2 separate regions of the Homo sapiens genome follow, and region 2 is linked to region 1. The links come from fine-mapping of genetic effects on gene expression. Tissue or cell type: whole blood. Region 1 holds a variant in brackets; the other region holds the start of a gene. All regions are shown on one strand. Distances are from middle to middle.

Region 1 (2,500 bases):
GTATATACTTATAAAGTATGCTAAGCACTATGAAAAAAAAGAACAAGGAAGCATCAGAGAGAATGGCTGATTCTGCCTGGAAGATCTGAGAAGGGCTCTATGAGGAAGTGACATTGAAGCAGAAAGCTAAAAGATGAGACAAGCTTAGAGGACATATGCATGGGGCCCACATAATGTGAAAACTTGGAGTAGGAGCCATCAGAAATAAGGGGCCTGCATTTCTGATAAAGGAAACATGGAAGACAATGTGACACAGGAAAGAACTTGACGAATTCAAGGAATTTTTCTTTTCCTTTTTGTTTTGAGACCAAGTCTTGCTCTGTTGCCCAAGCTGGAGTGCAGTGGTGCGATCTCAGCTCACTGCAACCTCCACCTCCCAGGTTCAAGCAATTCTCCTGCCTCAGCCTCTCAAGTAGCTGGGATTACAAGCATAAGCCACCATGCCCAGTTAATTTTTGTATTTTTAGTAGAGATGGGGTTTCACCATGTTGGCCAGGCTGGTCTCAAACTCCCGACCTCAGGTGATCTGCCCACCTCGGCCTCTGAAAGTGCTGGAATTACAAGCGTGAGCCACCGCGCCTGGCCAGAATCATCTTTAATTAATGGGAAATTAAAAAAAAAAAAAAAAAAGAGCCTAAGCACAAATTTTGGAGGAAGTCCTTGGTCTGAACCCCAGCTCCAGCATTTACAATTAGTAGCTGTGTGACTTTGGGCCAATTAACTGTCCCTTCTGTACCTCAGTTATCTGGAAAGTGGAAATAATAGTAACTATCCCCAGAGTTTGTTATCTCATTTAAAACAACATATGGAAAGCACACAGTATAGTGCCTAACACATAGTAGGCACTCATGAAATAGAAAAGTTGCCTATAGTTTATTCTTAATTGTGATTTCATAACATATCAAGGGCTATAGGTAAAAAACAAAAACAAAAACAAAAACTCCACAAATGTGACAACTAAGTGGAATCACATATTAAATATATGATCATTGAAAGGTTCACCAAATTTTTTTGTTGAGAGGTCTGGAGTAACTTCTAAAAATTGACAACCAAGAGTAACCAGTTAGGATTGACATACCATTGTCCCCTTC[C/T]ATCAGGCTCATATCATTCAGATACACAATATTGGTGAAGGCCTCTCTTCTTCTCTCCAGCTCCAAACAGAGAATTAGATATCCAGGCCAGAAACTTTAAAGAGACCGAAGTTGAAGAAAGGAATAAAAGGCCATGAATTTATCTGGAGCTGTGCTGCCCAAAACAGTAGACACAGTCACATGTGGCTATTTCAATTTAAATTAATTAAAAGTAAATAACATCTGAAAGTCAGTTTTTCAGTTAATATATTCACATTTCAAGTAGTCAATGGCTACATGTGGCTAGTGGCCACCATTGGACAGTTCAGTAGAATATCTCCACTATCACAGAAAGTTCTATTAGATGACCCTGATCTAGGGAAAAAAAAAAAACAAAAAACCTAGCAACAAATGCTGACATTTGAGGCCAAGCTCCAATTATAAGGCATTTAAGCTTTATTCAATTTATAAACTTTAAAATTCAACACAAACCTAGCATATTTCTTCTCCAAATATGTAAACCTTGGAAGTCTTCCTTGACTCTTCCCCCTCCTTCATTTGCTATATCCAGTATCAGCATGTCCCACTGCATTTTCCTTTGAAATGCCCACTGGATGTGCTCCTTTTGCTGCCCTACTAATCACCAATCCACTCATATCTGAATTACTCCAACAGCTTCCTAGCTGGCCTTCTGTCTCCAGCCTTCTCATATATGACATCAGAAATGATCTCTAGAAAGCTCCACTTTCATTACACAATTTTTGCACCAAGTAGTTCAGTCTAAAAGGGTCTCTACTGATAACTAAATTATTCTACCAGCTTTCAAGGTCCTGCATGATCTTGTCACCCACCACCTGGCCAGACTCAGCCCTCATTACAATGAACAAATATGTATCAAGTGCCTACCACTATACAAATTAGATATAGACATTATGAGGGAAAAGAAAGACACAAGTTGCTATCTCCAAAAGATTATAATCCAGTTGGAGCCATAAGCCAGTATCACCAGGCAATAAATAACTGACTGAAGTGTGACATGGATAATAAGCAATGCCAGTTTTCCACGCCCTTGCTCTGTTTCTCTCACCTAACTCACCCTCTCCTGGCTCCTTTATAAATACAAATCCTACCCAGGTTTTAGGTTTTACCTCCAAAATCTCACCTCCTCCTTGAGTCCTTCACCAGCGATGCTATTGAGCCCATTTTGATCTCTCTCTTACTGTATTAATTATAAAAGTCTATCAATTATAATTGGTATCACATAATCTGGTGCTTAATTAAATACTATCTACATGCCTGAGAACTGGGGCTGGCAACTAAGCAGAGGGAGTGGAGGGGAATTAGCTAAGGCTATTTAAAAAAAAAAAAAAAAGAAAAAAGCAAGAAATTTAAATGGAAAAAAGATGTTTAATTTACTATCACTTAAAACA
Region 2 (2,749 bases), 38 kb after region 1:
ATACTCCTTAAGTAGTTAGATGAGCCCAGAATAGAGTAGAAACACTAACTTCCTGGATCTAGACACTAAGTTTCTATATTACAACCTAAAAACAGTATTAGTTGTGTTTAAGTGGCCATGTTACACATTGATTCAACAGAGCAAGTGGTCAACTAAAACCCAAAGAAATTGTTTACATAAATAAAATCTTCTTAGCCAGTAGCTACATACAGTAGAACTGAGCTCAAATTGAAAGCTGCTATTAATCAAATGCAACAATGGATATAAAAAGTACCTAGAAATGTACAAACAGTATAAAGAGGAACAGCAGAATGCTGATAATTGTTCAAGTTGCGTTAAGTGTACATGAGGGTTCAATTTATTATCCTACTTTTGTCTGCGTTTGAAATTTTCCACAATAAAATTTAAAAAATATATACATAATATTGTACAAGCCTTCAACAGCTCTATTTCTTGAAAATCTGTTATCTCCTCCCTGCTTCTTTTTCCAGCCTTATTTCCCATCTTAACCTCTCTATTCTCCAACTACATTGGACTCGACTCTTTTTTTCTTTTTCATTCCATAAACTTGCTGTGCCTCCATGGTTTAATATATGATGTTTATGGAATCTTCCCCCATTTACCAAAACCCTACCTTTCTGCAAAGCTGAGTTTAAATGTTACTTCTGTGAAGGCACTCTACCAAAAACTAAGAACATAGAAGTTGGCGACAAATGCTTAACCAAAGTAAATGAAACAACTTTTGGGAGACTGGCTTGCCCAAGGATCACAGAGTTCATAAATGGTAGAGCTGAGATTAGAATACGCGTCTCCTGAATCCAAATCTCATCTTTCCATTATCGTAAAATAGTTCAGTGTTTGTTGCTCACACATCAAATGCAAACATGTTTCTCTTTTGCCCCAGTAGGTGCGTGGAGGAAGAGGAGAAAGAAGTAAGAAAGATAGCAAAAATTGAAGAAATGAGAAGGGGAAGTTGCAGACTGCCTCATTTTCACAATGGGATCTTTCTATCCAAGAAGAAATGATCAGAAAACAACTCTCTGCCTCAGACAAATGGCGACTGACTCATTTATACATTCATTCATTCAACATTCTGAGTGCCTACTATGTTCCAGGACCTGAACACACCGCTAGAGACACAGGGATGAACAAAACACAATCCCTACCCACAAAAAGCTCCTTGCCTAGTGGAACTACTACCTTTTTAACAGCAGTAACTTTAATATCTTGAGATTTCTTGAGAGGAGACCCAGTAACCAATTTTCAAAGCCAGGCTCACAGACCAGCAGCCCGGAGGTCCCAGCCCAGCTCCACCACATCCAGGGCAGTACCTCGCAGCTCTCAGTAGATCGGATCTTGTCTCCCGGCTTAGCGCCGGGGAACTCACCGCGCACTAAGAGCGGAACGTGAACTTCAGTCTCCCCTCGCGTTCCTCCCCTTCCTTGCTGACGTCATCCAGGAGAGCCGCAGACTGGAAACAACGCTACTAACGGCACTTCCTCATCACGTGACGAGTCACGCCCCTCCTTCCGCGTGGTCCCTCCCCCTCAGGCCGCGGTCGCGATTACGCTCTCTACGGCCTGCGACCGCAGGGCCGTTGCGGGCTGGAGACACGGCGCCGACTGGAACCGGAGGAGCTCTAGGCCAAATGGTTGGGCCAGCCAGGATCCCAGGACCCTTCGCCGCTCGAGACCGGAGAGAGGAAACGAAACAGGCGGGAACCCGTGGGGGAGGGAGGGAACTAGCGGAAGGTGTCATGGCGGCCGCGCTCTTGAGTCACGTGCCCAGGGCCCGCCTTGCTACTTCCGGTCACGTGCCCTCAGACTCCTCGCAGCCAGCGATGGAGGCGAGACCCCCTAGTAACAGAGGCGGTGGCTACTGCTGCGGCCACTGGGTTTCGGCCTCTTCCCAGCAGCGGCTCTAAGAAGCGCAGCGGAACTCGACCGGATCCAACCCAGTTAGTTACTTCCTGTCTAGAGTTGTAGCTTCCACCTGGTAAGTTTAGACCGAAGAATGCAGGCGGGCGGGTGGGTGGGCGGGTGAGGAGCTGACAGGCCTGGGGGCCGCTGGACGGCGTGGATTCTACCCCTGTTCCCAGCGTCGCTGTCGCCGTCCTCCCAACGCCCAAGCCTGGCGTCTTGTTTGCCCTTATCCCGAGGCGAGGAAGAGGCGACCCCTAATCTACTTGTCTAAAGGAAACCTGCTCTTAAATTGAGAGCAGGTTTACCCAAAGCCAGGATCAGATTTGGCTTATGAGAATGAAGTGGAGGCCTCTCCCAGACAGAGAAGCCCTTCCCGTCAGGAAATGTGCTGTTGAGTCTGGGATTCTGTAAGAGAAAAGCTGTCACCTTGTTGTCTGCACACCTTTTGCTTCCACCTGTCAATCTTACCTCTCTTAAAAACCTTAACACGTGCCAGTCCACACACTCCTAGTTTTGGTCATTTGATTGTCGTGTAATGATGAAAAATAGACCATGAGTACCTGGATATATGTAATTATTTTGTAAATCCCCCAGTGTTCTCAAAGGCCAAATTAAATAAGGAGGTGACTTTTCTTATTTTTTTTTAAGAGACAGAGTCTTGTTCTGTCGTCCTGGCTGGAATGCAGTGGCGTGATAATAGCTCACTGTAACCTCGAATTCCTGGGCTCAAGCGATTCTCCTGCCTAGACCTCCCAAAGCGCCAGAATTATGCTACAGTGCCTGGCCCCAAATGACTCCTAAACTCCAATTTTAGCATCAGTAAAATG

The links. PIP is the estimated chance that this variant, and not a neighbour inherited with it, causes the effect.
Region 2: HPS5 starts here. The variant in region 1 is fine-mapped to the expression of HPS5 in whole blood (TOPMed, PIP 0.92).

The regions. Positions count from the first base shown.
Region 1 is chr11:18,282,717-18,285,216 of GRCh38, forward strand. It overlaps HPS5 (HPS5 biogenesis of lysosomal organelles complex 2 subunit 2), which reads right to left. Exons shown (of 23, transcript NM_181507.2): 21 at 1,079-1,185. Among named protein-coding and RNA genes, the nearest start is that of SAA1, 18 kb to the left of the region's middle. RefSeq lists an enhancer at 1-36. The variant C/T (reference allele first, on the strand shown) is at 1,092.
Region 2 is chr11:18,320,746-18,323,494 of GRCh38, forward strand. HPS5 (HPS5 biogenesis of lysosomal organelles complex 2 subunit 2) reads right to left here and starts at 1,395. Exons shown (of 23, transcript NM_181507.2): 1 at 1,201-1,395. GTF2H1 (general transcription factor IIH subunit 1) reads left to right here and starts at 1,822. Exons shown (of 15, transcript NM_005316.4): 1 at 1,822-1,995. RefSeq lists enhancers at 893-1,842, 980-2,179, 1,070-1,369, 1,380-1,799.